Regions from separate parts of the Homo sapiens genome. Here all the other regions are linked to region 1. Evidence: fine-mapped expression QTL. A gene starts in region 1. Each other region holds a variant in brackets. All regions are shown on one strand. Distances are between the middles of the regions. Region 1 holds the start of CDK5RAP2 (CDK5 regulatory subunit associated protein 2). Region 2 overlaps CDK5RAP2 (CDK5 regulatory subunit associated protein 2). Region 3 overlaps CDK5RAP2 (CDK5 regulatory subunit associated protein 2).

The links. PIP is the estimated chance that this variant, and not a neighbour inherited with it, causes the effect.
Region 2: its variant is the best candidate, but not a certain one, in a credible set for the expression of CDK5RAP2 in blood mononuclear cells (TOPMed, PIP 0.73).
Region 3: its variant is the best candidate, but not a certain one, in a credible set for the expression of CDK5RAP2 in skeletal muscle (FUSION, PIP 0.58).

Annotation. Positions count from the first base shown.
Region 1 is chr9:120,577,119-120,588,018 of GRCh38, reverse strand. CDK5RAP2 (CDK5 regulatory subunit associated protein 2) reads left to right here and starts at 7,852. Exons shown (of 38, transcript NM_018249.6): 1 at 7,852-8,099. The coding sequence starts at 8,041. RefSeq lists enhancers at 7,635-7,764, 7,618-8,180.
Region 2 is chr9:120,427,590-120,438,489 of GRCh38, reverse strand. It overlaps CDK5RAP2 (CDK5 regulatory subunit associated protein 2), which reads left to right. Exons shown (of 38, transcript NM_018249.6): 25 at 963-1,195. Among named protein-coding and RNA genes, the nearest start is that of CDK5RAP2, 150 kb to the left of the region's middle. The variant C/A (reference allele first, on the strand shown) is at 2,635.
Region 3 is chr9:120,394,738-120,404,365 of GRCh38, reverse strand. CDK5RAP2 (CDK5 regulatory subunit associated protein 2) reads left to right here. Exons shown (of 38, transcript NM_018249.6): 33 at 253-330; 34 at 1,295-1,560; 35 at 3,481-3,624. Among named protein-coding and RNA genes, the nearest start is that of MIR147A, 150 kb to the right of the region's middle. RefSeq lists an enhancer at 996-1,964. The variant TG/G (reference allele first, on the strand shown) is at 2,755.

The sequences.
Region 1 (10,900 bases):
TGGCAGCCAAGTTAACAATTACAGAGCTAAATGTCACAATGATGATAAGCTCAGGGTATGCTGGGAGTCCAGAGGTGGGACATCTACCCAAACTGGGTCCCAAAACTTTCTCTTAAACTGTTGTTCAGAGGACCCTAGGACTCACAGAGAAGGGGAAGGAAGCATATTTTAGACTCTAAGAGTCACTGGCATGTATAGTTCTTTTGTGTGAATTAGAAAAAAGGCATCCCTGCTTTGGGATAAACTCACAGCTTGTCCAGCACAGCACGGACTCAATTTCAGCCTCCACTCCTCCTTTGGGTGGATGTGCTTGTGTAGGGCACAGCCTGTGCAGTGTACTTGGTGGCATGTCACACACACAGGAGGACACATGCAAGGAAAAGGGGACTGTCATTTATCCCTTTAAGGAAGGAGGCACTGCAGCTGCCACAAGTGTTGTGTTCATCCTTCTCTAGTTCCTGCTCTGTGCTCTCAATGTGAATTCACTGCATTTAAGGGAGATGCAAAGTTTACCGTCCCCTCCTGCAAGTCACAAGACATTAAGTACTTCTTTTAATCTGCAAAATGTCCAGACAGTTGATTAATTCAATTACCCTTCTCTGCTTAGAGCTATTGCTGCTTTACATATTCAATGTGCAGCTGGAGAGGGTGCTTGAAAGCACTCTCTGGCATCCTAGGATAATTTTTCCAGCAGCTTTTAGATCTCTGTTAGCCAGACCCTGGATTTAAGTGGGTGGGGATGTGGCCATCGTACTGAGGATGATCAATTTAGGTAGGAGATCTTGCCGTGGGACATATCTCTGGCTCCTGCAAGTTTCAAAAAGCTCAGGAACCACCTTTTGTGAATCAGGAAATGGAGGTCCAAGCTCCTCTCTGTCACTAGCTTGCTGTGTGACTTTGGGAAAATCGGTTCATGTCTCTGAGTCTCAATTTCCTTATCAGTAGAAGAATGATAACAAACTTGTCTTAGAGCTGTTGTGAGGTAGAATCAAGGGATGAAGAATGTGACATGGGCTTTTTAAATAGTTGCATCAAGTAGGGATTTTATTTGATCTCTGTTGGCCTTCAAACATGAGGAGCTAGTGCACATAATAGTATGTACAGGTTTTTATCCTGCTTTTGCAGGGCATAGGTCTTACTTGTAAAACAGCCTTCCCCAACTGCTCAATCAGAATGACTCAATCCCTTCTGTGATCCTAGAATCTCACTGTTCTTTTTCTTTTTCTTTTCTTTTTTTTTTTTTTTTTGAGATGGAGTCCTGCTCTGTCACGAGGCTGGAGTGCAGTGGCACGATCTCTGCTCACTGCAACCTCCACCTCCCAGGTTCAAGCGATTCCCCTACCTCAGCCTCCTGAGTAGCTGGGACTACAGGTGCGTGTCACCACACCCGGCTAATTTTTTTTGTATTTTAGTAGAGACGGGGTTTCTCCACGTTGGCCAGGATGGTCTCGATCTCCTGACCTTGTGATCCACCTGCCTCGGCCTCCCAAAGTGCTGGGATTACAGGCGTGAGCCACCGTGCCCAGCCCTGTTATCTTTCTTATACCAACAAAGTATTTAAAATGTTTTGCTTTGTTTCATAATTATGTATGTGCATTTTCACCAGCTTCTTGAGGACAGGTATTCAGTGAAAGGCACTACGGCCTAGTGGTTAAGAACATGGGCTTTTGGATGAATTCTGGGTTCAAATCCTGTCTTCACAACTGAGCTACTTGGATGGTGTCGGGGCAAAACTTTCCTTTAACCTGTCTGGTTCAGTACCTGAGGGTTCTGTGTATTAAATGGACAAAAGACAGATTAACAGGAGAAAAGGCATATTAATTTTTATTAATAGTTATGTGCACAAGAGTTCATAGAAAAGAAGTGAAACTCAAATAAGTGGTTAGGCTCAAGGGCTTTTATCCCATTATAGCAAAAGAAGGGAGTGTTGAGCTTCAAGGCTGATAAATCATGGGGAAGTGATTAGGGAATATATGGGGGAAACTAATGGTAGACAGGGAGGAGGCACATGTTCACAAAGGGGAATTTATGTCCTGCTTCAGGGTAGAAAAGGAGAAGGCAGAAAATTCTTTCTGCATCTGTTGATTCTCAATTGTCTTCAGCTCAAAATAATCCTTATGCAAAAGGGGCATATGTTGGGATGGCATATTTTGATCCCCTTCAATGGCCAGGCAACTCTTTCTTCTCTTTGTACTTCAGTTTTGTCAACCATAAAGTTGGAGCATAATCAGTTCTTGTTTCATAAGGTTATTGTGAGGATTGAATGCAAAGTATATAACACAGTACCTGGCACATAGAAAGAGCTTAATATATGGTAGCTAATTTTAGTTATTCATGGAACATCACAGCTGAAGGGGCCTCAATGTTGTAGTGTAATGCACTCAGCATACAGATAAGAAAATAGGCCCAGAGAGTTGAACTGGGAGATTGGTATTAACCTTATATTATGTTGATGTGTGTTACCATCCCTAGTCCAATAATCTATATTCTATTCCTTTGATATTTGGTATTTCTCATTCCACTTTCCATCTTGAGAAAAAGTCAGGACTTGGAGTTAATTTGACAAACTGGCATTGAGCATCTACTATGTGCACAGCCTGGGGCTACATGTTGGGCCCAGAAGGCATCACTGACTTGATCACCCTGCTCTTCAGAGAAGGCAGTGGGTACTAATTGAGAACTGGTCCTAATAAGGACTGCTGGTGTTGAGGGTTGGTTGGTAAGAGGTCTTGGGAGCAAGGGGGCAGATGTGTCTGCCAGAAATACTGCCAACTGTGGGACCAGACAGGCATGGGTTTGAATCTCAGCACGGCCATGGTTTAGAAGGGCAGCTTGGGCCAGGCGCAGTGGCTCATGCCTGTAATCCCAGCACTTTGGGAGGCCGAGGTGGGCAGATCACGAGGTCAAGAGATTGAGACCATCCTGGCCAACATGGTGAAACCCTGTCTCTACTAAAATTACAAAAATTAGCTGGGTGTGGTTGTGTGCGCCTGTAGTCCCAGCTACTTGGGAGGCTGAGGCAGGAGAATTGCTTGAACCCGGGAGGCGGAGGTTGCAGTGCCACTGGACCCCAGCCTGGGTGACAGAGTGAGACTGTGTCTCAAAAACAAAAACAAAAACAAAAACAAAGCGTGTCATTGCCATGAAAGACAGAACTGTCAGAGACTGGAGGAGAGTAAGGAGATGTAACAAGTAAATGCAGTGTGGAATATTGGATTGGATCCTGGACCAGCAAAAGGGAATTAATGGGAAAAGATTAAATTTAAATAAGATCTGTAATAAGTCATATTGTATCAATGTAATTTCTTATTTTTGACAATTGTGCTATGGTTGTGGAAGATGTTAATATTTTAGAAATTCTTTGTACTATTTTTGCAACTTTTTTCTAAGTTTGAAATTATTTCTAAATAAAAAACTAAGAAAGAAGGAAAGAAAAAAAAGTGTGACCTTTGGGAAATCTCTTCCCCTCTCTGAGCCTTTAGTTTCTTCTTCTGTAGAGTAGGGCGATCAACCCAATTCACTTCACAGCATCATGAGGATAAAACGGAAGAGTGCAAAGTAGTAGCATTGCGTATATATTGATCCTATAAAAAGTTATTTTTGCTGTTAGTAATGGCAGTGCAAATGTCTTGATCTGTTAAAGCTTCAGGAGGGTTCTACCCAAATGAAAAACATCTGACTGCAAGCTACTTCCTCCCAGCCATTTGATATGACCTTGTCTGAGGAAATAATAATGCCAGCTTTGTGGTTGGGTGGCTGTTGTCAAGGAGATAGCCCCAGATAGCCCAAACAGCTGGTGGTAGTGACGTCACCTCTAGGTTTGGCAGAAAGATCATGGTGAGACAGAGACAGGACAAAGGCCTCTGTCTCTGAACATGAAACCACTACAGTAGCAGGAAAACCAACTTCCAAATAGCCTTTCCTTTGTGCAATTGATTCTATTTTCAGTTTCTAGGTTCACTAAAGGGTTTAGCACGCAACCCAGGGACATGGTCATGCTGAACAAGGCAATGGACTAATCATAATGAGAGATCCTAGGCTGGGCGTGATGGCTCATGTCTATAACCCCAGTACTTTCTGACGCTGAGGTGGGAGGATCATTTGAGCCCAAGAGTTCGAGACCAGCCTGGGCAACATACCAAGACCCCATCTCTACTAAAAATAAACAAATTAGTCCGGCATGGTGGCACCTGCTTGTGGTCCCAGCTACTCGGGAGGCTGAGGTGGGAGGATCACCTGAGCCTGGAAGGTGGAGGCTGCAGTGAGCTATGATCACTCTTATTGTACTCCAGCCTGGTTGACAAAGCAAGACCCTGTGTCCAAAAAAAAAATTAAATAAGTTAAAAAAACAACCCAACTCCTCACAGGTTCTTTCATCTTCAATAATGTCTAAGGTATTCAATTAGATGAGGCAACCATGTGAACTCAGCATTGTCCTCCCCATTTTACACATGAAAATCGAAGTGTAGCAAGGGGAAGGAACCCCAGGTCACAGGATAAATGGGAGGAGTTTCCAGAGTCAGAATCCAGGTGTCCAGACTTCCAGTTCTGTAAACTGCCCACACTAAGATTCACCTCTTAGCCACTTTGAAGCAGTTTCCCAAGGAGTAGAGTCTGGTGAACACAACCCTTAAATACTGTCGTCTGGATGTAGACCTTGCCTCTTAGTACTAAATTCTAAAGCAAAAGAGAAACCCAAATGGGGATGACAGGTTGCCTGAAACAATCAAGGTGTTGGAATTCAAAGGGCCCTGGTCTCAATTCCAGCTCTGGCACTTACCAGCTGTAGGACCTTCAGTAAGTAGTTTTTACCTTTTGCAGCCTCAGTCTTCTCAATTGTAAGTCAGATAGTAGCGCCTCCTGCAGAAGGTTGTTGGGAGGGTTAAATGAGGTGGTGCATGTAATATGCCTGGAACAAGTGACGTATAAGACATGCTCAAAATGTATAAGTTCTCTTCCTTGTTTATATTCTCAAGAGTTTTCATTGGCTGGAGATGCAAAGTTAGTTCTTTCATGTGGGAAGTGTTAGCCTCCCTCCCCAGGAGAGAGTTGGTTGTATGTTAGTAGCTTTGAAATAAACACAGAAGCCAGGCACAGTGGCTCACACCTGTAATCCCAGCACTTTGGGAGGCCGAGGTGGGTGGATCACCTGAGGTCAGGAGTTCGAGGCCAGCCTGGCCAACATGGTGAAACCCCGTCTCTACTAAAAATACGAAAATTAGCTGGGCGTGGTGGCAGGTGCCTGTAATCCCAGCTACTTGGGAGGCTGAGGTGGGAGAATCGCTTGAATCCAGGAGGTTGCAGTGAGCTGAGATCGCGTCACTGTATTCCAGCCTGGGCAACAGAGCAAGACTCCATCTTAAAAAAAAAAAAAAAAAGAAATGTAGAAATCACCTCCAGAGCTGTAACATCCTGAGAGACCCTGAGAGGTTCAGCCCTCTCATTTAACAGATGTAGAAGCTGAGGTCCACAGAGAAGTGATTGGCCAGGCCGGGTGGGGTGGCTCATGCCTGTAATCCCAGCACTTTGGGAGGCTGAGGTGGGTGGATCACCTGAGGTCAGGAGTTCGAGACCAACCTGACCAAGATGGACAAACCCTGCCTCTACTAAAAATACAAAACTAGCCGGACGTGGCAGTGCATGCCTATAATTCCAGCCACTTGGGAGGCTGAGGCAGGAGAATCGCTTGAACCCGGGAGGCAGAGGTTGTGGTGAACCGAGATCGTGCCATTGCACTCCAGCCTGGGCAACAAGAGCAAAACTCCATCTCAAAAAAAAAAAAAAAGGTGATCTGCCAAAGATCACAGAGTTGGTGGCAGAGCCAGGGTGGGAATCCTGACACCCCAACTTCCCTGCTTTTGGACACACCTATCTCATGGGTTGAACTTACTGGCAAGGAGTATTGGTTCCTGGGCTTCAAGGACTGCCCCGTTCCTGAGGCAGTGCACCAGGTGTGCTAAGCTTTCCCTCTTTTTCATGCTTTTATCATTGCTAATTGTGGGTGTGGTTGAAGATCTAGAGAAAGAAGGGGGACAGGCAAATAATCGCGGGCTTTGGAAGCCTAACTAAAGCTGAGAGAGAGACAGAGAGAGAGAGAGAAAGAGAGAGAATGAATATGAATCTGGGATACACAGAATTACTATTGACAGAGGTCCTAAAAGTATCTCTGATTATTCTCACAAAAACCTTGCAGGATAGGTATTGGCCTTATTTCCAGACTGATTGATTGAATCACTCATTCATTTAACATACATTTTCAAATAGCTGCTGAGTGGCAGACATAGTGCTAGGTGTTGAGGATATAGCAGTGAACAATTCAGAATATAGTCCCTGCCCCATGCAGCTTCCAGTCTAGTGCAAGGAAAGACATTTAAAAAATGATTTTACACACACACACACACACACAAATTGCAAAATATGGTAAGTGCCACAAAGGAATAATTTGCATTGCTAGGAATACAAGAAGTGGCTTGATTTAGATTAAATGACTAGGGAAGGCTTCTTTTGAAAAGTATCAATAATTGGTTAATTACTTAACTGAAGAATGAGGGCCTGGTGCAGTGGCTCAGGCCTATAACCCCAGCACTTTGGGAGGCCAAGGTGGGAGGATTGCTTGAGGCCAGGAGTTCAAGACCAGCCTGGGCAACATAGTGAGACCCTGTCTCTATTTAAAAAAAAAAAAAAAAGAATGAGGAAACAGGGTGAAAGGGGAATTGTTCAAGATTACTGGGAAAGTCACTATCTATCCACTCACCAACCATTTCAAGTTATTTTCATCGGGCTCTCTCACAAGGGCCTGCAGAGGAAGGAGCAACACTGAGTTGAGGAGGGGAAGGTTAATTTCATTGCTTAAGCTCTGCCAAGATTATCTAAGTGTTTGGTGATTGCTATGTGCTTTAAGAAAGGCAGCCAAGGGGCCGGTGCTGTGGCTCACGCCTGTAATCCCAGCAGTTTGGAAGGCCGGGGTGGGCAGATCACGAGGTCAGGAGATTGAGACCATCCTGGCCAACATGGTGAAACCCCGTCTCTACTAAACATACAAAAATTACCCGGGTGTGGTGGCGCAAGGCCGAGGCAGAAGAATCGCTTAAACCCAGAAGGTGAAGGTTGCAGTGAGCTGAGATCGGGCCACTGCACTCCAGCCTGGCGACAGAGGCACCATTTCAAAAAAAAAAAAAAAGAAAGGCAGCCAGGGTTATGCAGAGAGCCCTCATCTAGTTGGCAGGAGCTGCAGACCCCCACTCCAGTTGAAAGACATTGTCAATACTTAATTACTTTGGGAGAGTCCTTTCCTCTTGCTGGCCCTCAGTTTTCTGACCACAGGTGCCTTTGAGTCCTAATGGTAATAAAAGACCAATAGGTGAGAGACTGGAGTGGGAGTGCTGTTGACCACTGGCTCATGGGAATGAGTTATTTGCTTCAAACTAAGTCTGCAAATTACTGTTTGCCTTGAGATTCCGCACGTAGTATTTTTCCAAAGCAAGGCAGCACTCAGTTATCTGAGTTTCAACTTAAGGTCAAATCCCAAAGTTTTGGGGTCATTATTCTAGAAAAGCAAACACGAGGTTAGGAACTTTGAGGATTCCTGAGTGGCTGTATTCATTTCCATCTCCCGCGTAAATTAACGGACTAGGGCCCGCTTTGGCCCTCAACAAAGATGGCACCCGCCCTCGCCTCTCCCTAAGTGCCCTCACAAAAAATGGCAGCCGGCCTTTTTTTGTCTCTTATTTTTGCTTGGCTTAAGCACGGATGCTTTGCCCTTAGTTAAGATGGCACCTATCCCCGCTTCCCTGCCCGTCCTCTGGCGCCAGCCGGTCGGCTTCACTGCGTGCGCCTCCGTGACCCCGCCTCGTTTCCGTAGGAAGAAGCGCCGGGAAAGATGGCGGCGTCTGTGGTTTGAATTCCAGCGGCGCCGCCAGAGTCTGAACAAGAGCTGGGGTGGAGGGGGCGGGGACCTGGGGAGCCCGGCGGGTCGCTATCGCGGGGGGTACTAGTGGCGCCGCCGCCACAGACACCAACGCTGTCGCCACCTCTGTAGCCATGATGGACTTGGTGTTGGAAGAGGACGTCACCGTCCCTGGGACGCTCAGCGGCTGCAGGTGCGGCCGGGGCATTGGTGGTCGTGGTAACCGGGCCGGGGTTCCAGCTGGTGGGATTTCGTTCTAACGCGGCCTTGGGGTTTGCTCTTGAGGGTGTCTGGCCAGGGGCAGTGTGTGGGGTGGGTTCCTTCGGAGAGGGTCTCTGGGGGGCCCACCACCTGACACTCTGGAGGGCTGGGAGCCGCGACCTGCACCACAATTGCCAGTAGCATTGCGCCATGTACTTTGTAGAGCGTGTGAAGAACAGGTAAGGAGTTTTCTGAAAGAGTAGGACGAGGGTGGGGCCACTTGGAGTATCCCGTTAGTGGGGATTGGTGGAGAACAGGGACCTTGAGGGCACCTGATGGTTCCTTCTGGTTTGAGAGTTTGTTTTCATTATGGAGAGAGTGTAGCCGGTATGCCCAGACTTTGCTTTTTGGGTCACATAGTGGCCACCCAGGAGGCAATGGAGTGCAATGATTAAGAACCTTGGCTAGAGTTGGACAAAACTGGATTCAAATCCAGCCCTGTAAACTGACTAGCTGTGTGACCTTGGTAAAGTGATTTCACCGGCTTTCCCATCTGTAAAATGGGCTAGTAATATCCACCCAACAGAGTTGGGGTGAGGATTAAAAGAGGTGATGCCTGTCGAGCCATTTGCTTGGCAGGTGTAGTGCCTGCCACATAATCAGTGCTTAAAAAATGATCTTGTGTTGCCATTAGTGTCATTATTACTACTGTCATCAAAGGTGATATGAATCAGGGAATAATGGCCAAGAGTGGCCTCCCATGGACCTGCCCCAAGAGACTGTGGGAGTCCCCATTGCTGGTGGAGCTGGGGTCTGGTAGGAAGGCCTAACAGAGCGCAACTCTGCTCCACGGCTGGCCCCTGTGGTTGTCCTAGACTCCTGGTTGGAGAGTGAGTAGAGGGAAGAGGAGGAGAGCCCTGACGGAGAACCTGCACTGTTTATCCAGCTCTACTATGGACAAGCTGCTGCTTTTAGTCAACAGATCCTAATTGAAAGGGTGACCATGTTATTTATTGTGCTAACTGGGACACTTAAGAGTGAAAAGAGCCAGGTGCGGTGGCTCACCTGTGTAATCCTAGCCCTTGGGGAGGCCGAGGTGGGCCGATTTCTTGAGCTCAGGAGTGTGAGATCAGCCTGGGCAACATGGTGAAATCCTATCTCTACAAAAACTACAAAGATTAGCCAGGCGTGGTGGCATGCACTTGTAGTCCCAGCCGCTCGGGAGGCTGAGGCAGGAGGATTGCATGAGCCCGGAAGGTTGATGCTGCAGTGAGCTGTGTTCATGCCACTGCACTGTAGCCTGGGTGACAAAGTGAGACTCTATCTTTAAAAAAAAAAAAAAGGAAAGTGAAAATAATTAATATTTATGCCCGGGCAGCAGACATAAAGAGGGCCTATCTTGGGTAAACCTGGACAAATGGTTTTTCTGTTTATTGAGAACCTTCATGTATGAGGCACAGACTAAGATGCTTTGCAGTTCCTGTCTAATTGGGTCCTGTGATATTTCATCATGCCCTTTTCTATCTATTTTACATCCACTGCCCCAATATATTGGGAGTATGGCTTCTCTCTTGTATTGTCCTTTGCACCTCTAATAGTTTTTTATACTACAATTTGAAAACTATTTTTTATTTATTTATTTTTTTGAGACGGAGTCTTGCTTTGTGACCAGGCTGGAGTGCAGTGGCGCGATCTCGGCTCACTTCAACCTCCGCCTCCCGGGTTCAAGCAATTCTCCTGCCTGAGCCTCCGGAGTAGCTGGGATTACAGGAGTGCACCACCGTGCGTGGCTAATTTTTGTATTTTAGTAGAGACGGGATTTCACCATGTTGGCCAGGATGGTCTCCATCTCCTGATCTCATGATCTGCTCTCCTTGGCCTCCCAAAGTTCTGGGATTACAGGCGTGAGCCACCGCGCCCGGCGTGAGAACTATTTTTTAAATATAAATCTGCTCTTCACAGTCTGCTGCTTTATACTTTTAATGCTGCTTATTGCTGTTATCATAACTTCCATTATTATTCTCTCAGATAGCCATTCTTATTTCAGTGCTTTTTGGCCAGACACTTGGGTTTTGGGGTCCCAGGCCTAGCTGGGTTTTAATCCCAGTTCTGCTACTTAACAACCCCTTGATCTGGGGCAAGTCACTCATCATCTGTGAGCCTCAGTGTTTATCATCTGTAAAAGGGGTTGGTATAAAGCCTAGGGTTGGCATAAGGATTAAAATGAATCTTAAAAAGTTTAGCTCAGTGTCTGACCCAGAGTAACTACTCAACAGATCAGCAAATATTCTCCTTTCCCTCATCTCCCTGCCTTTGCAGGACGTAGATACTGCATACATTCCATCTTAACCATTTTAAAGCATGGTTCAGTTGTATTAAATATATTTGTATTATTGCTCAACGGTCACCACTATCTATCTTCGTAACTCTCCATCTTGCAAAACAGAAACTGTGTCCCTGTTAAAACAGTAACTCCCTATTCCCCCCTTCTCCCAGCCTCTGACAATCACCATTCTACTTTCTGTCTCTATGATTTTTTTTTTTTTTTTTTGAGACAGGGTCTCGCTTTGTTGCCCAGGCTGGAGTGCAGTGGAGTGATCTTGGCTCACTGCAACCTCCGCCTCCAGAGTTCAAGCAATTCTCATGGTTCAGCCACTTAGTGGCCGGGACTACAGGCATGCCCCACTACGCCTGGCTAATTTTTGTATTTTTGGTAGAGACGGGGTTTCACCAGGTTGACCAGGCTGGTCTTGAACTCCTGGCCTCAAGTGTTGTGCCTGCCTCGGCCTCCCA
Region 2 (10,900 bases), 150 kb after region 1:
TTACTCATGAGTTACCCATGTTTACCCATGTTACTCCAGTACTCACATGATACTGGCCCCCACCTTTAATGCTGGTATCATGTAATCTGCATGTGCACACTCTATGTTGAAGGTGACTGCCAGCCCATGTAGTGTTGTCATTTCCAGGAAGGAGAAAATTATGTTGAACTGAAGTGTCAACATCTTTGCCAAGCTACTCTCTGGAGCAAGGTTATTGTGGCCAGTTTACATGAGTCACATTTCCCTTAACCTGTTTACTTCTCAGTGTCTTTCTCTTATGGGCTCACGTAGGAAAAGGTGGCACATGACGGTAAAAAGGTAATATTGCATAATGATCTTCAAAGTGAGAATTGTGTTTGAATCCAAAATCTTTACCACTTAATTAGCTTTGCAGTCAGTTTATTCTTCTGTAAAAGGGGACATTTATACATTTGTTGGAAGACTGAGAGGATCAGATAACATATAAAGCACTGAATTCAGTTACTGACAGGTCCTAGACCCTCAGTAAATGGTAGTTAGCATCATGATTATTCAGTGACGTTTTGTTCGGGAGGAGAGAGTCCTGTCTTTTTTTCTTTGTGGTACACTTTCTTTATCACACTTCATGAGAATTTTTGGTAGATCCTCTGACCCTTGGGGCACTTGTTTCTACAATTCAGAATAGTATTTTTGAAGAGTGTATGGAAACTTATTGTTTGCCTGAGTTCTTGCCAATCTGTACTTTAATTGGGGGCTTTATAAGGTTAAAAATGTTGCAGAAGAATCTTTGTTCCAGCCTTTGTTGGCTGTGTGAAATCAAAGAAGAGCTGACCTTGTACAGTTTCAATTTTTCTAAAAGTATATATACTTGTACAGCTGCAGGCTTTTAAAAATTGTACTCTGTCATTTTTCCAATTAGTGTTAAGGTCACAAAAATTCAATTCTAAAATGGTCCAAGTATTTTCTTTCCCCTCTTTTATCAGATACGATTCATTAGTTCAGTCCCAAGCCAGGGAGCTCTCCCTTCAACGGCAGCAGATTAAGGATGGCCATGGCATCTGTGTCATCTCCCGTCAACACATGAACACCATGATTAAGGCATTTGAGGAGTTGCTGCAGGCCAGTGATGTGGATTACTGTGTGGCCGAGGGTTTCCAGGAACAGCTGAATCAATGTGCTGAGCTGCTGGAGAAATTGGAAAAGCTATTTCTCAACGGTAGGTAGGGTGAGGTACGCGAGTCTTAAGACATCAGTAATTGACCCAGGACTTCTTGGAGGGGCACAGGAGGAGCTAACTCCTTGGCCTTAGTTATCTTTCACCCCTCTGCCTTGATGAGGTGACAGCAGAACCACACTGGCTGCTGCTTCCTCCCAGTGACCACTTCCACATGGCTTGTGGTCGGCACTGTTACAAACCAGGAGTCCAGTTTAGACGCCTCAGGGGCCGGGCTGGTGAGGTACATGAGTGAAGCCAGCCAGAAGGCACTGCCTCTCACTCAGCAGTGGTCACGTAGTTGCCAGTTCTTGCATCTTACAAATTTTCCAGAAAAGATGGGATTTTTTATTTATTTATTTTTTTTTGTGAAAACTCATGTGTTTTAAATGTTGGCAAGCAAAAAATCCAGTCAACCAAGCAAAATTTTTATCAGTTAAAAAGTATATCGAAGAGTTAAGGATGGCCAGAGGAAGGGTGAAAGAAACCTTTGCTATGTGCTAGGTAAAATTTTTAAAATAATTTTTTTTTGAGACTACAGCAAAGAACTCCCATTTACTGTGCACCCAGCTTCATCAGTTGTTAGCATTTGCCACATTTGTTTTATCTTTCCCTGTCTGTACACACACGCGCTCTATTATTATCTTTCTGAGCTCTATGAGAGTGGATTGATGCTATGATGTTCCTTTCTCCCTAGATAATTCAGGGTGTGGTTCCTCAGACCAAGGAAATTCTCGTGCATAACCATGGTATTGTTATCACAATCAGAAAAGGTGTTGTCTAATATACTATTATCTAATATACAGCCTATATTTGAATTTTTATAATTAATTCAATAATGTCTTTTATGACAGTTTATTCTGGATCCTGATCCTGGTCCGGGATCCAGTCTCCACGTTACATTTAGTTGTCATGTGTCTCTCGTCTCCTTTAATCCGGAGTAGTTCCTCACCCTTTCTTCTTTTCGTGATGTGAACATACTTCAATAGTTCAGGCTAGCCCCTCGCTTTGGGATTATCTGTTCTTTCCGCAAGACTCAATTCATGATTAGATTAAATTGGTTAGATTAGATTGGCTATGCAGTTTTGGCAGGAATGCTGCATAAGAGATTATTTTGTTCTTATGGTGTTTTCTTAAGGAGGCACACAATATTAATCCCGTTTTTGGTGATATTAACTTTGATCACTTCCTTAAGGTAATGTCTGTCAGTTTTCTCCAGTGTAAATTATATTAACCTGTGTAATGAATAATTTGTAGAAGATACTTTGTTATTCTGTAAGTATTCTCTTCCTCTTCAAACTTCTACCATGAGTTTTACCATATATTGATGATTCTTGTCTGAGTCAAATGTTCCTATGACAGTTTTTTTCTAACACTAACATTTTTTAATCACATTCCTTCTTCATTTATATTAGGTGGCATGTACTAGAAGAATGCATTCT[C/A]TATTAATTCCTTTTATTACTATATTTCTTGTTTGTTTATGATCAGTGTGGGCTTAAAGATTCTTATTTTATTCAATGGACTATTATCCATTCTGACATTCATATTATATTGTCCCAGATTTGGTAAGTGGCAGTTTCTTTTGACATGTCTCCATCTTTTTGGGAGTACGTCCTTACTTTCTGGGACAAAATAGATTTTCCATGCTCATCCTGTACTGCTTCTGCCCTGAATGAGCCATTTCTCCAAGAGCCTTGATTCCTTTTAGTGAGGAATGATATTTAACCACCAAGATTTGGTGCTAGGTGTGTTCATTGCTACGAGGGTATCATTGTGTCTAGGCCCTTTAGCAGGCGTGTGTGTGTGTGTGTGTGTGTGTGTGTGTGTAAATGTGTAATTTATTTTTTAAAAAAATCATTACTTCACAATGGTGCCTTTAATTCCAGTCCAGACTCACTGGGTTCTTTCCTGTTTTTCCCGCTTCCACATTTTTACTTCCCTTCTCCAACACTAAGAACCCTGGCTCTGACAACATCACCATATCTGCTGATTTACTCAGTTCTGTAATATATACACATAGTTCCAGAATTACTCCACCCTTTCCACTGTGAAAAACAAACCCACTGGAAGAGTTTAAGATTTGTTTATTAAAGTAGTTCTCTTTGTTTTTAGGCTAAAAATACATTATAGTATGTTCTTGAATTTAAAAGTTGTTTGGTTTCATTCTTTGTACAGCTGTTGTTGGGTTAGTCATTTGAAACACAATTAGATTCATTTGTTTTTATTTGTATTCAATTTTAGAGTTTTCTACCCTATTTTTATTGATTTAATTTTTTGAATATGTATAACATTAGCATGATTCCAGAGTCAAAACTGTATCCTTTTAAATTGCTGTGTGAAGTCATTATTTTTCTCCTTTTCCCTTATCTCCAGTAGTATTGCTTTCCATTCCCCTTTCTCTCTTAAACCCATTGGGACTGGACTCTGAGTTATCTCAACCCCTCCACTGAAACAGTTTGCCTGACACTAACAACTTCCACTTTGCCAAATCCAAGGATCAGTTTTCAGTCTTCATCTTGCTCAGACTGCAGCAGTATTTGACGTGTTGATCCCTCCCTCCTTGGCTGACTTGGCTTCCAGACGATGCCACTGAGAGTTCAGTTCTCCTCTCCCTCCCTGGCTGCCTCTGTGCAGCCCCGCCTTCTGCACGTCTTCCATCCCTGACCAGTCCTCACCACCAATTATTGCTGCCACCGCTTCAGCTCGCCTCTCTTCTCTCACCTGGATGCTGCAGGCCTCTCCTGTTTGGCCTCTGGGCTTCCATCCTTGTCTCACTGTAGTGCATTTTCCACACAATAATCAGTGATCTTTTAAAAATGTAAGTCAGATCATGTCCCATCTCTGCCCCCAAATCAAAGCCTTTCCTTTTCATTCAGTGTAAAAGTCCAGATAAGGGCCTGCAAAGCCCTGTACCATCGCCCTGGCTGCACTCTCTCCTTACTTCTGCCGCCCCACCCTCTCCTGCTTCCCCTCCCCAGCTACTGACCCTGCAGTTTTTCTAGCATGCCCAGGCCAGCTCCTCCTTCAGGGGCTTTGCACTTTCTCTTCTGTCTGGTGTCCCTGATCCCTTCAGGCCTTGTCTCAAATGTCATCATATTAACGAGGTGCTCTTTGACAGCTCTTTATGAAATAGCAAGGCACCCCTGCCTATCACTGACATTCCCTTTTTCCCTTACCCTGTGTTATTTTCCTCGGTTCTACCCACAACCATCTCGCATGTTATGTGTTTACTACCCGTAACCATCTTAACCATCTTGCATGTTATATGTTTTTTATTCTGCCTTCCCTGTAGAAAGTAAGCCCTACAAGGGTGCATGGATCTTGTCTGTTGTGTTTGTTGCTGTAGTGCTAGGATATAGATAACGTTTGATGTATGGTGGACACGTAACACATATTTTGAGAGAATGAATAAATGAGTGAGTGAGTCAGTGAATCTAGTGTTACAGCTGTGGAGAGTGTGGCCCAGTGAGAGTAAGCAACTCATCTGTGACCATTTGTGGAGTGAATGGCAGAGCTGGGATTTTAAATCAGGTCTCTGGACAAAAAACTTTTCCTACTAGAGCTACTTGTATTATAGTTGGTATCATATAGGTTATTTGATTTAAACTTCACAATGACCTTGGAAGCACAATGTATTAGTTCAGTTTTATAGATGATGAACTGAGGCATAGAGAAATAACCTTACATATTTAAATAAATGGGCCTAGTAGTGAAGAATGCAGTCATTGGAGCTGGGCTGGCCAGATTAGAGCTCTGGTTTCCCACTCGTAAGCTGTGTACCTTGGGAAATTTACTTAATTCCTTGCCTCAGTTTCTTCTTTCACCTGTAAACTTAGCATTCTAATACCTAATTGGTGGAGCCTTTGTAAGAATTAAATTATGGATGTGAAGCCTTGCTTGGCTCAGTGCTGGGTGCATGGTTCTTACGTACTGAGTGCTTATTAGTATTTGTACTTGCTGTGAGTTGGGGCTTAATCCTCAGAACAGCCTGTTTTTCAGGTGAGGAACTTAGACTTAACAAATAAGAGTTTGTTGTTCAAAGTCACAACTGACTTGGCGGAACCAGGATTTAACTCTGTTCCTCTTGTCTTCATATGTACAAAATAGATGGTTTATGATGGCCCACATAGTTCATTTAATTCCAGGATAGAACATGGGATAGTTTACCCATCTGGGCCTAGTGAATGTTTTCCCCCAGCTTTTGCGAAGGGCCCAGCAGCTTAGACCTGCTGTAGACTGGTTTTGCTAATACCGGTTCCCAGGACTTTTGAGGACCAGGGTATATAGGAGTACCTGACTTTTCCCAGCTTTATGAAAACCTACTTCCTTGTAGCTAAGGGTATTCTAAATAAGCTAGTTTTCATTTTATTAGTGGAGAACTATCTGGGTCCTCATGATAAAGCCGTATCTTCCAGGCCCAAGTCATTTTCTGTCGGCCTCTTCTTGAAGGCTCTCACTCTAGGCCCTAGGAAGTGGAGAGCTGAGAGTGGGTGCCTCTGGCACCAGCTGCCCTCCTTCCTTCATCTAGCCACTCCCCTTGGTTTATTTTTTAGTTATTTACCTTGACACACCCAAGGAGAGCCTACTTATTCTTTGTGGGTTCTGCAGGCAGACGAAGCATTTTAGACTTAGCAGATAACACAAACATAGAACTTGATTTTCTCCTACAAAAAGCATAAAAGTCCCAGAAACCTCACCACAGCTCCTTTTCTTGGGGACTAAAATGTAACACAGAGGTAGCTCTTTCTTGGATTCATATAAGGGGTCTGGCTCTTGAATTATGAAACAAGCTTATCATAAAACAGTTTTATATTCGAGGCAGTCATATAGCATGAGTTCTTAAAAATTTAAATATAGCCTTTAAAAAAATTAATACAAAGCAATACATGTTTACTGTGGAATAAAAGATAAGCAAATACTCCTATAGTTGCATCACACAACAAAGTGTGAATACCCTGGAGTATATATGCCCAGACCTTTTTTATTCATATGTGTATTTTTTATGGAAATGGGACTGTTTGCATCCTCTCCCTTTGTTCAGTTATAGATAATAAGTATACATTGTAAGTTTTAGTGGCTGCAGGGCATTCTTTTGTATAAATGTACCATAATTTATTTAATAATTCCCCATTAGATGAACATTCAGATTGTTCCCATTTTGGGGCTATTATAAAGAACACTGTACTGGAATCTTTGTGCATATCCTTGCTATTTCTTTAATAATGTTTGGTTGGTAGGCTCCAAGAAGTAGGATGGTAGCGTTGTTTCTTAATGCTTATAAGGGGACTCTCCCTTGGCTCCATTAAACTAGGGATTCCACTAGGGATCTGGAAACCTGCAATGTACATTTTTCTGGGGTGAGGGTCTATAACTTAGATTCCCAAGAGGGCTGGGATCAAAATAGATCAGGAACTGGTGTTGCAGCCAGAGTTTCCACTGTATCCTTGTTCTTGGTGCCTCCCAAGAGCAGTTGTATGAATAAGGCAGGTGGTATTTTGTCTGTAGGTATTTTTGAGTAAGCTGTGTTTGACACTGGGAAAGGTACAAAGAAGACAGTTTGATCAGTGAGCTCACCACATGAACAAAGATAGCTCCTGGAATCCTTTGCCTTAGTTCTCTGCTGAAAGAAGTGAACCTGAAACATTGGTTTCTTCTCAAGGCCTTCCACAGTCTGGAGGGGGCCTTTGCCAGGGGCCTTTGCCAGCCCACCACCCTCTGATGATGATGATGATATGAAGAAGTTGAAGGAGAAACAATGAGGAAGTGAGAAAGACTGATCTTTATTGGGTGCTTGCAATATGCCAGGCATTGTTCTCAGCCTAAGAGGAAGTATTATTTATTATCCTCATTTATTAACAAGTGAGGAACGGAGAGGTTCATTCACTTGGTCTAAGTCAGACAGGAAGTGACAGAGTCTGAATTTGAGTCCATGTAGTTCACTTTCACAGTCTACCCTCCTAACCACCATGATATCGTGCTTTTCACACTCCTATCAAATTGGATTAACTGGTCAAACATTTCTTCTTCTTCTTATTATTATACTTTAAGTTTTAGGGTACATGTGCGCAATGTGCAGGTTAGTTACATATGTATACATGTGCCATGCTGGTGTGCTGCACCCATTAACTCGTCATTTAGCATTAGGTGTATCTCCTAATGCTATCCCTCCCCCTTCCCCTCACCCCACAACAGTCCCCAGAGTGTGATGTTCCCTTTCCTGTGTCCACGTGTTCTCATTGTTCAATTCCCATCTATGAGTGAGAACATGCGGTGTTTGGTTTTTTGTCCTTGTGATACTTTACTGAGAATGATGATTTCCAATTTCATCCATGTCCCTACAAAGGACATGAACTCATCATTTTTTATGGCTGCCTAGTATTCCATGGTGTATATGTGCCACATTTTCTTACTCCAGTCTATCATTGTTGGACATTTGGGTTGGTTCCAAGTCTTTGCTATTGTGAATAGTGCCGCAGTAAACATATGTGTGCATGTGTCTTTATAGCAGCATGATTTATAGTCCTTTGGGTATATACCCAGTAATGGGATGGCTGGGTCAAATGGTATTTCTAGTTCTAGATCCCTGAGGAATCGCCACACTGACTTCCACAATGGTTGAACTAGTTTACAGTCCCACCAACAGTGTAAAAGTGTTCCTATTTCTCCACATCCTCTCTAGCACCTGTTGTTTCCTGACTTTTTAATGATTGCCATTGTAACTGGTGTGAGATGGTATCTCATTGTGGTTTTGATTTGCATTTCTCTGATGGCCAGTGATGATGAGCATTTTTTCATGTGTCTTTTGGCTGCATAAATGTCTTCTTTTGAGAAGTGTCTGTTCATATCCTTCGCCCACTTTTTGATGGGGTTGTTTGTTTTTTTCTTGTAAATTTGTTTGAGTTCATTGTAGATTCTGGATATTAGCCCTTTGTCAGATGAGTAGGTTGCAAAAATTTTCTCCCATTTTGTAGGTTGCCTGTTCACTCTGATGGTAGTTTCTTTAGCTGTGCAGAAGCTCTTGAGTTTAATTAGATCCCATTTGTCAATTTTGGCTTTTGTTGCCATTGCTTTTGGTGTTTTAGACATGAAGTCCTTGCCCATGCCTATGTCCTGAATAGTAATGCCTAGGTTTTCTTCTAGGGTTTTTATGGTTTTAGGTCTAACATTTAAGTCTTTAATCCATCTTGAATTAATTTTTGTATAAGGTGTAAGGAAGGGATCCAGTTTCAGCTTTCTACATATGGCTAGCCAGTTTTGCCAACACCATTTATTAAATAGGGAATCCTTTCCCCATTGCTTGTTTTTCTCAGGTTTGTCAAAGATCAGATAGTTGTAGATATGCGGCATTATTTCTGAGGGCTCTGTTCTGTTCCCATTGATCTGTATCTCTCTTTTGGTGCCAGTACCATGCTGTTTTGGTTACTGTAGCCTTGTAGTATAGTTTGAAGTCAGGTAGTGTGATGCCTCCAGCTTTGTTCTTTTGGCTTAGGATTGACTTGGCGATGCGGGCTCTTTTTTGGTTCCATATGAACTTTAAAATCATTTTTTCCAGTTCTGTGAAGAAAGTCATTGGTAGCTTGATGGGGATGGCATTGAATCTATAAATTACCTTGAGCAGTATGGCCATTTTCACAATATTGATTCTTCCTACCCATGAGCATGGAATGTTCTTCCATTTGTTTGTATCCTCTTTTATTTCATTGAGCAGTGGTTTGTAGTTCTCCTTGAAGAGGTCCTTCACGTCCCTTGTAAGTTGAATTCCTAAGTATTTTATTCTCTTTGAAGCAGTTGTGAATGGGAGTTCACTCATGATTTGGCTCTCTGTTTGTCTGTTATTGGTGTATAAGAATGCTTGTGATTTTTGTACATCGATTTTGTATCCTGAGACTTTGCTGAAGTTGCTTATCAGCTTAAGGAAATTTTGGGCTGAGACAATGGGGTTTTCTAGATATACAATCATGTCATCTGCAAACAGGGACAATTTGACTTCCTCTTTTCCTAATTGAATACCCTTTATTTCCTTCTCCTGCCTAATTGCCCTGGCCAGAACTTCCAACACTATGTTGAATAGGAGTGGTGAGAGAGGGCATCCCTGTCTTGTGCCAGTTTTCAAAGGGAATGCTTCCAGTTTTTGCCCATTCAGTATGATATTGGCTGTGGGTTTGTCATAGATAGCTCTTATTATTTTGAGATAACGTTCGATCAATACCTAATTTATTAAGAGTTTTTAGCATGAAGGGTTGTTGAATTTTGTCAAAGGCCTTTTCTGCATCTATTGAGATAATCATGTGGTTTTTGTCTTTGGTTCTGTTTATATGCTGGATTACATTTATTGATTTGCGTATATTGAACCAGCTTTGCATCCCAGGGATGAAGCCCACTTGATCGTGGTGGATAAGCTTTTTGATGTGCTGCTGGATTCGGTTTGCCAGTATTTTATTGAGGATTTTTGCATCAATGTTCATCAAGGATTTTGGTCTAAAATTCTCTTTTTTGGCTGTGTCTCTGCCCGGCTTTGGTATCAGGATGATGCTGGCCTCATAAAATGAGTTAGGGAGGATTCCCTCTTTTTCTATTGATTGGAATAGTTTCAGAAGGAATGGTACCAGTTCCTCCTTGTACCTCTGGTAGAATTTGGCTGTGAATCCGTCTGGTCCTGGACTCTTTTTGGTTGGTAAGCTATTGATTATTGCCACAATTTCAGATCCTGTTATTGGTCTATTCAGAGATTCAGCTTCTTCCTAGTTTAGTCTGGGGATAGTGTATGTGTCGAGGAATTTATCCATTTCTTCTAGATTTTCTAGTTTATTTGCGTAGAGGTGTTTGTAGTATTCTCTGATGGTAGTTTGTATTTCTTTGGGATCGGTGGTGATATCCCCTTTATCATTCTTTATTGCATCTATTTGATTCTTCTCTCTTTTTTTCTTTATTAGTCTTGCTAGCGGTCTATCAATTTTGTTGATCCTTTCACAAAACCAGCTCCTGGATTCATTAATTTTTTGAAGGGTTTTTTTGGTCTCTATTTCCTTCAGTTCTTCTCTGATTTTAGTTATTTCTTGCCTTCTGCTAGCTTTTAAATGTGTTTGCTCTTGCTTTCCTAGTTCTTTTAATTGTGATGTTAGGGTGTCAATTTTGGATCTTTCCTGCTTTCTCTTGTGGGCATTTAGTGCTATAAATTTCCCTCTACACACTCCTTTGAATGTGTCCCAGAGATTCTGGTATGTTGTGTCTTTGTTCTCGTTGGCTTCAAAGAACATTTTTATTTCTGCCTTCATTTCGTTATGTACCCAGTAGTCATTCAGGAGCAGGTTGTTCAGTTTCCATGTAGTTGAGCGGTTTTGAGTGAGTTTCTTAATCCTGAGTTCTAGTTTGATTTCACTGTGGTCTGAGAGACAGTTTGTTATAATTTCTGTTCTTTTACATTTGCTGAGGAGAGCTTTACTTCCAACTATGTGGTCAATTTTGGAATAGGTATGGTGTGGTGCTGAAAAAAATGTATATTCTGTTGATCAAACATTTCTGTGGGCCAGGCCTTGCATTTCCCCTCTTCCATGATTCCGTTCAAACCATTATTTTTTTCTGTAAGACTTCTACTCCCTTTCCACTTAGAGAAATTAGAGAAATTCTGCCTATCCTCCAGGAATCTTTCTTTGTTCACCTGAAGTGGAAGCAAAATTTATTCTTTCCACCCCCTCCCACCCCCGGTTT
Region 3 (9,628 bases), 180 kb after region 1:
ACACTAAAATAAAATTGCTTATTTACTTTTCTGCTGAGAGTTTTTCTAGGGAATGGACTGGGCCTGGTCACTCTGTCTCCCTGGTGTCCCACAAAGGTGGGCTTGGCAGGACAGAGGCCCAGTGAAGATTTGAAGGAATGCTGTGTGTGTATGGATAAGTGAATGTGAGGGGCTTGACTGTATTCTCTTTCAGTTCTCTCTTGAATGCTGACAACAGTGAAACTAACAGTTCTCGTGTTTTGCATTTTGTAGATGGTGACAAATATCCCATGGAAAGTGATAATTCATTTGATCTGTTTGATTCCTCCCAGGCAGTGACACCAAAATCAGGTACAAAGCTGAAGTCCAGGTAACTGTGGGAGCATTGGATGTGACAGTAAGACTTTTTAACTTGCAGAAAAGGGGGGTCCCTGGTCCCAACTCAGGAGGGTATTTGGTAAGGATTTGGGATTTCAAGTTCTCAGCATCCCCAGCTGGTGATCTTCTCCTTCAAGCCAGTTAATCCACTCCTAGGTGTTACCAAGGTTAGAACATCATTGGGTCCCTCTTGCCTTAGATTAAAATTGTGACCACCTTTGTGAGGCTTTCAAGGCCCTCCAGGATCCAGCTCCAGTGGGTCCGTCCAGCCTTATCCCTTAACCTGGTGTAGCCACACAGGGGTCACCATCCTGCAGACAGGCCCACACTTTCCTCTCACTGTGACTTTTAGACCCCCTTTGTCCCACTCTTTGCCGGTAGAAGTCCCGTTTCCTCAAGACTCATCATGAATACACATTTCTCTGTGACATGCCTTTGCTGCTGTCCTTGGTCAGAATGACTCATCATTCGTGTAATTCTTGCTACTTGCTCAATCCAGTTCAAATGCTGCTCCTTCTCAGAAGCCTTCCCTGTTCTCTCCCTCCCTGCACAGATAATTGTTTTTTCTGGCTCTGGCCCTTCATCACTCTGCTGTTGCACCTTCTGCAGTGTCTGTGTTCTGATCAGACTGTGGGCTACTGGAATGCAGGCACCAGCTTGAGTCATCCTTGTGAATCTGGGGTCTTCTGCCGAGTGGGTGGTTGATAAGTGTTGGTTGAGTTGACTTGAGCCTCTCCTACAAGATGACTCATAAGCCCAGTGTGGGGTAATATACAGAGGTCCAGGAGCGTGCCTCTTTTCCCCTCTGGGCTTGTGTTGGGTGGCATTTGGGCACGAGGGCCTCTTCTAGCCCTCCTAGCTAGCTTCAACATCATAAGCGTCTTGAACGCAGAGTGTTACCTGAAACAGATTTTACATCCTACTTCTCATTTTACAGTTTCAGAGACTCCTCCACTCTCTGGGAATGACACGGACTCCCTCTCCTGCGACAGTGGCAGTTCGGCAACTAGCACTCCGTGTGTGTCCCGCCTGGTCACTGGCCACCACCTGTGGGCCAGCAAGAATGGCCGCCATGTCCTGGGCCTGATTGAGGACTATGAGGCCCTGCTCAAACAGATCAGCCAGGGACAGAGGCTCCTTGCTGAAATGGACATTCAAACCCAAGAGGCTCCCAGCTCCACAAGTCAAGAGCTGGGAACAAAGGTAACCTGACCACAGAGCTGGGGGGCACAAGCTGCTCCCTGGGAGTGTCGGTGGAAGGGGGAGGGGAGTCAAATGGCGCAGTTGTCCTCATTAGGACCCTGAGAAGAGGGACCAGGAAGTGTGGCCTCAGAGAGCTCAGAGGTCAGGTCCAGTGTGGGGAACTATTGGTGGTGGCTGTGTTTGGTGGGGTTTGTGCCTTGTGTTCCTGCAACTGCTCCATGGGCTCTGCTGTCTTGTTCCCATGACGGCCTCTGTACATCTGGTCTCTCATCCATTCTTCTCTCCATCTGCACCCTGGTGTGTCTGTCCATTCATCTGCCCATCCACCTGGCTGTCGCCCATTATGAAGTGGAATTACTAGTTCAAAGGTTGTGAACTTTTTAGGGCTCTTGATGATAACTGTTGCTCCATTACTTTGCAAAACAATTCTATCTCTGTTCATGAACGTTTGTCTCACTACATTTTTGTTTTTGTTGAGGTTTTGTTGTTGTTGTGTTTTTTTTATTTTGAGACAGGATCTAGCTCTGTCACCCAGGCTGGAGTGCAGTGGCGCGATCATGGCTCACTGTAGCTTCGACCCCACCTCCTAGGCTCAAGCAATCCTCCTGCCTCAGCCTCCCAAGTAGCTGTGACCACAGGCGTGTGCCATCACACCTGGCTTTTAAAAAAAATTTTTTTTAGAGACAGGGTCTCACTCTGTTGCCCAGGCTGGCCTCGAACTCCTGGGCTCAAATGATCCTCCCACCTTGGCCTCCTAAAGTGTTGGGATTACAGGCGTCAGCTATCATGCCTGGCAGTATATATATAAAATTTTTTTTTTTTGAGATGGAGTCTCATTCTGTTGCTCAGGCTGGAGTTCAGTGGTGCGATCTTGGCTCACTGCAGCCTCCTCCTCTTGGGCTCAAGTGATTCTCCTCCCTCAGCCTCTTTAGTAGCTGGGATTACAGGCGCCTGCCACCATGCCCGGCTGATTTTTGTATTTTTAGTAGAGACGGGGTTTCACCATGCTGGGCAGGCTGGTCTTGAACTCCTGACTTCAGGTGATCCAACTGCCTCGGCCTCCCAAAGTGCTGGGATAAAGGCGTGAGCCACTGCACCCAGCCCAGATATTTTCATTTATAATGATTTTTTTGTTACTTTGATATCTAAAAAGGATGTGTCTTTTTTCTCTCTTTTTTTTTTTTTTTTTTTTTT[TG/G]AGACAGGGTCTGGCCATGTTGTCCAGGCTGGGGTACATGGCATGATTATGGCACACTGCAGCCTTGACCTCCTGGACTTAAGCAATCCTCCCATCCCAGCTTCCTGAGTAGCCAGGACTACAGGTGTGCACTGCCACACCTAGCTAATTTTTTATTTTTTTGTAGAGATGGGGGTCTCACTATGTTGCCTAGGGTGGTCTCGAATTTCTGGGCTTGTATTTCCCCTTTTCTGAGTCACATACATAATTTTCTTGTGCCCTTGATACCGCCCAATTTGAGTTTGCTCTGCCAGCAGTACAAGACCCTGATATCATATTCACTACAGCAGGGCCATTTAACAGGGACCAGTAAAGGCAAACCATTTATTGCTTGCTGTTGGTGTCATTTTCTCTGGGCGAGTCTCTGTGGGTCGCCAAACAGTAAGAATGGCCCTCCCACAGACCCTTTACTTGGAGTAGTAACTGTAGTTAATGCTGGTGGTTATTAACCATGGTGGTTATTAATCATGGTTATTGATTGGGCTAAGATCACCACTGAAATTCTCTCATAATCTACAATTCACCAGTCTTTAAGAACAATAAATTGGTGTTATGTGGTACCAGGCTTTCGCTCAGCGTGTGAAACAGAAGCCCTACAGTCTGGAGATTTATACTGCATGTTAAGGCTTGCTTGTCTAAAATCTTTTTCAAGACTGCACGTAACAGCCTTCATATCCCCCGTGTAGGGTCCACACCCAGCACCACTGAGCAAGTTTGTGAGCAGTGTGAGCACGGCCAAGCTGACCCTGGAAGAGGCCTACAGGCGGCTGAAGCTTCTCTGGAGAGTCTCACTCCCCGAGGATGGCCAGTGCCCCCTTCACTGTGAGCAGGTAGGTGGTGACACATGTTTCAGAGGCTCAAGGATGCCACTGGGGCCTGTGTCTCAGTTTCCTCCATGCCAAGCAGGGGCCCACAGCAGATGTGCCCACCATTTGGGGTATGTATTAGGGAGGAGATGGCACCGTTTGCCATGGCTTCACTGTGTTCTTACTTGATCCGTCCCACACTCCTGTAGCCATGACCCGTCTGAGCGTGTCTTTGTTGAGTAGAATCCCGTCCGCATTCTACACATGAGGGAACCAGGACTCAGGGAGCTGAGGCACTTAGTCAAGGTTAGAACTTGTTTGAAAGGATAAATATTGGAACCCAATGTTTATTCTTTTATTTTATAGGCTCTAAGTCCTAATTTGTCCTCATGGACTAGCTCATTCTTTTCTACTCATCATCTCTTTTATTTTAGGTGCCTTTTTCTGGACCTTCTGATTCCTATCGACAGCTTTCATCATCATATTTGAGTGGACCTTGTTCAAAATCTGTTTTAAGTACTTAGGAATGACAGGCTCCAAACCAGGAGTCAGGCAGAGTAGAAGCTGTCCTCTGATTTCTGTGTGTGGGATGCATGTGGTGTCATGACAAGGTGAACGCCCACTCTGGCTAATCAGAGAAACCTCCCTGGAGGAAGGGACCTGCAGGTTAAGGAAGAGTTAGAACTCTCTGCTTGGTGGTGTGATAGATATTTCACCCTTTGTTTATCTAACCTATCTGTTCTTGCCAAAGGCCAGTAGGAAGGCAGAAGGGAAATTTACATTTTTTGTCATTATCTCATTTAGTTAACCCCCTTTTGACAGCTCTCAGGTCTCTCAAACATGACCATGAAGTAGCAGGTGGGGCAGCTCTCTCTGCTCTGAAGGTTCTAATGAGCCTGTTCTAAGATTTCACTTTTGGGATCCTGGGGACAAAGTTTGGATACACTAAGCTCAGGGAAGTTGATAACTATTCATTCCATAGAAAAATCTTTTTTTGGCCCACGTTTAGCTGGTGGCAGTATCAGGTGGGAGACAGAGTATCAGGGAGGAAGGCTGAGACTCACTGGGGTCCAGCCCCACATTGGTCTTTCCCTTCTTCTAATCCACCAGGTCCTGTTCCATCTTAGGCTTAGGTGACACAGATGGCCTGACTGCCTGGAGTGTCCCATGTCCTGCTTCTGGCTGGCTCCTTCTCACCTTTCAAGTCTTAGCTTAAATATTACCCCAGAGTCAGAGAGGGCTCCCTGATTCCTCCATCATAGCATCCTCTTCTGTTTCATCATAGCCTTTCAACAAGTTATAATTGTATATTTGTTTAATGCCTGTCTTCCTCTATTTTCCTTCAGAGGATGGTGTCTGTTTTATTTATATTTTTTGAATGAACCAGTGATTTTTTTTCTATACACCCAAAGTAGTGCCTGCCTCATATGATTTTAACATAAACATGTCTGAACTGAACAGTTGACCCTTAATGCAATGTTTTTATCCTTAGCACATTGTAGTAACTGTTACATAGACAGAAATACAGCTCATACACTTACATATAAAATATATATACACACAAAAAAAGTTATAGCCACATTGATTCTTCCCTACTTGCAAATCATTCCAGGAGTGGTTGGTGCTCCTGAGTACCCCTTTCCTTCCAAAGGTTTCTTGAGTAATTGATTATGCTCACTCTGATGTCATGGAATTGTGCCAGAAAAAGGACCTTTGAGATGCTCCGATGTGGTTGCTGGGGTACATACCCCCTGTGTAGTGTTAAATTGCCTCTAGCCACTTTTCTGTCACTGCTGTGTTTCATACAGTGCCTTTGCTTGGTGTGAAATGTGTGTAATGCTGATTTCCATTTCCAAGTTTTCACCAACAACCCAGGGGTTTTTGAACTATCTGGTTTTCTCTTGAGTGTTATTAATTGCCTTTTACATTTAGTATACCATCCCATGTAGTCTGGACTGCTCTGGAAAGTGTGTATCATGTGCACCAGTTGTGTGGAGGGGTACAAATGTACACACATACTTGTTTATAATAATTTTTTTAAATGGAGGATAAACAATAACAAACCAGGCTACATATAGTAATGGAAGGGGAGAGATTGGAGTAACAGATAGAAGGTAGATTTCTCTGAATAGACCTTGTTTTGTAGATTTGACTTAGCAAGTATATAAATGCATTACATGATTATAAAAAATCAAAATGAGAAAACAATTCCTAAAAATTCTTGGCAAGATGAAACAAACCTTACTGTATATGGCAATGTAGGCATAACAACACAAAAAGGAAGCATTTCAGTGACTAAAGCATAGTAATTTGACCACACATTTCTAGTAGAAGTATTCTAAGGGCAAGAAAAAAATTTAAACTCTTGTTAATGGTTATATTTTTAGTAGTAATATTGATATTCATATTCTGAATTATTATATTTCTATTATAAGATAAAGCAAATACTTTTATTGGGAACTGATTTTTTACTGTAAGGAAAAAGAGATAAGAAATCAAAGAAATAACCCTGTAATCCTAAATTTGAATAGCACATATCAGAATGAACTTGTGATGTATTATCATCCATTAAAAGAATTTTATGAACTTTGTCAACATACAAGGCTTTAGAAACAATGTCTGTTCTAGCACCAGTGAGTGCCCTTGATGCCCAAATTATGGTTTCTAGATACCTTTGCCCGCTAAAGGGAACTAGGGTTCCCTTGGAGAAATGGGTTGTTGCTAGGTCTGGGGCAGGAGATGTACAGTATGAGCCTAGAACGTATTTCATCCTAGTAAGAAAGGATCCAGCGTGGGGAAAGAGGGAGAGAACCCTATGGATTTACAGTGGTTCCCATAAGTGTGGGCCCTGGACCTGCAGCATCTGCATCACCTGGAAACTTGTCAAAAATTCACCTTCTCAGGCCTCACACCAAACCTGCTGAATCAGGAACTCTGAGAGTGCACCCCAGCAGTCTGTTTTTGTAGCCCTCTAGGTAGGTTTGAGAACCACTGGATTTAAAGAAACTCAAGAGATAATCAAATGCAAAACATGGATCTTATTTGCATCCTGAATTGAACCAATTGTTTAGAAAAGAAAATTATGAAGCAATCAGGGAAGTGTGCTCACTGACTGGATGTGGTGATACTAAGGAATTACTGCCTTTTTTTTTAAGGTGTCATAATGATACTGTGTTGGGCTTTTTTTTTTTTCTTTTTTCTTTTTTTTTTTTTTTTTTTTTAAGAATGTTTTTATGGCCGGGATGGTGGCTCATGCCTGTAATCCCAGCACTTTCAGAGGCCAAGGTGGGAGGATCACCTGAGGCCAGAAGTTTGAGAGCAGCCTGAGCAACATAGTAAGATGCTGTCTTTATTTAAAAAAAAAAAATCTTCTAGAGAGATCTAGTAAAATATTTTATAGATGATACAATTGGATTCTAAGGTTGGTTTCAGAATCATCTTGGGGAGAAGATGGGCAGGAATGTAGTAGAGGTAAGTATGGCCATGAATTGATCATTGCTGAAGCTGGATGGGCACTTGGGCGTTCATTATCCAGTTCTTTCTGCTTTCGTAAATGTTTGAGATTTTTTTCACCATAAAAAGAAAACAAGCAAAAATTCCTGTCCCCGAAGTCAGGCAGAACACTGACGAGGAAGCCTGAGGCCTCCTGGGAGGGAGTGGCTTCAGCACTGCAGCTCTGTGGCCCTCAGGAAGGGTTCTTCTGGTGACCTCCTGCGGACACTGGGCATGCTGCTTACACCCAGCATCTCATTTGATCCCTTGCGGAAATCTTGAGGGAGTTAGCTGTGATTCTTCCCTTTTTCCAGAGGTAGGAATGGAAACTCCAAGAGATTAAGTGACTTGCTTCAGCGTCATATAGCTGGGGAGTGGTGGAGCTGTACTTTGAGCCCCTGCTGTTGCTACCATGGAATATTCATCCTATAAAATGAAGATTTGAATCCAGGGGAACAACAGACATGTAAACAATTAAAATTCCCTGTTGTAAGTACTGGATAGAATATATACAGGATGTTAGGAGAGCACTAGTGAAAATTAATCCACCATGAGTGGGTAAATGGTGTCACAGCACCTACTCTGCGCCAGACACTGGTGGTTAGAGGGAGGAAATGAGTGTGTGGTCAGTACAGGAAGCAAACAAGTAAAGGACCAGTCACTCCAGTGTGCCATGGGCGGTGATGGGGAGACACTGAGCCCCGGGGCACCCAGAGGAGCAGTAGCCATCCTAAAAGAAGTGCCAGGTCAACTTCCTGGAAGAGGTGAAACCTGAGCTGACTTTAGAACAAGGAATGGGTCAGCCAGGCCAAGTTGGAAATGATCATTCCCACTGTCTTCCATTATCTCATTTGAGTCTCACTCTACTGCAATGTGATAGCTGGATCAGGGATGATTATTCCGATTTTACAGATGTGGGACTAAGGCGTTGACTGTAGAGAGACTTTGTCCTGGAATGTGTGGCCTCTGGAGCCATGACCAGAACCTAAGTCTTTGTGAGCTCTTAGCCCCAAGGAAAAGAATCAAAGCAAACCTAATGTTTAAAATTAGGATCTGTTTGGGAAGAACTGTCAAAGTCCTTGTACCTGACATGACTGGTTAATCTTAAAAGTAGGTTAAGTCAGGGAATCAAAAATGATATGTACCTTAAACATTTTAGTTTAACTTAAAACAGATAAATGTACATTCATTTGCCATTCTTTTGATGTAGGGCCAGGGCCTTTTCTTTTGAATATGGGTCTGCTGATTGGAGTTTCACATCTTCTTTCTTTCATAAACTGCATCCATAATGTATGTCTGTCACTTCCAATTTCTGTTTCTTTAAGATGAAGAGAAAACTTAGACACTTGCAAAGCAATTTGAATATAGAATTCTTCTAGACTGTGTTCCTCCCACATCTTTTATAGTTGTCTCACCCACACCTAATTTGCCAGAAATGTGTTTTTTAGTGACTTGCTTTTATCAAGTCTTTCCTGAAGCATATGTTAGTTTTCATACAACCAGTTCTCTCTTTTAATACACATATTTCATGGGCTTACTTAATATTTAATTAAATTATGCAATTTGATTACAAGTACAGCTACCATAAACAAGTTTGGGAACAAACTAAAGTGACTCTTCGTGAGCTGACAACTCACCAGCTCTCCTGTTGGAAGCAGAAGTGTTTCGGCGCAGCAGAGAGCGGCCTGTGCCACGGTGCTTTTCTGACAGAAAGGGAGTGTCCTTCCCCCTGGGAGCTGGTTTGGTGGAGACTGGCTCAGAGGGCTCCGCCGTGCATGTATGTCACCTCAGAGCACTGGGGACTCTGGTTTTGCCACCCATCCAGAGTTTACTCTGGAAAACCAGAAGAGTTTCTTCTAATGGAGCATACTTTCCTAGTAATACTTTTATATGATCTTTTGAAGATTTAAACATTGAAAAGTTTTTAAAATCAGCATTATAGTTTTTGTAAAAGAAAAAGATCACGCAATTTGAAATCATAGCTCATGGAGAGAATTGCTGTTAACATTTTGATGACATCTCAATATACACATCTATGGATGTGGGCGTTTATATTCAGTTTTGTGGAACAGGAATGCCTTTTATACAGGACGTGTTGTTCTGGGCTCTTTTGTCACTAACTGTGATCATTTTTTGATATCAATGCATAGAGCTCTACAACGTCATTTTTAATAGTTGCTAAATTATTGTATTATATGTAAGTACCATAATTTATCCAGATCTATACTGAAATCAGGTTATTTTTTCCTACCATGAACAATGCTGAGACGAACATCCTTGTACATAGGCATCTTCTTGTGCTTATGTTATTATTCCTTGGGGGAAATGCCAGCGTGTAGAATTGCTGGGGCAAAGAGTTAAGCGCATCTCAGTTTGGTAGATCTTGCCAGGGCGTTCTCACTGGGCCATGCCATCCCGCACTTCCACCAGAGGTCACGAGGTGCTTTCCCCTTACCCTCAATGAGTTTTGTCCAATTTTGCCTTTTCCTGGTTGTCAGGAAAAGGCTTCTAGTTTCCATTCAAATATTTTTGCTAG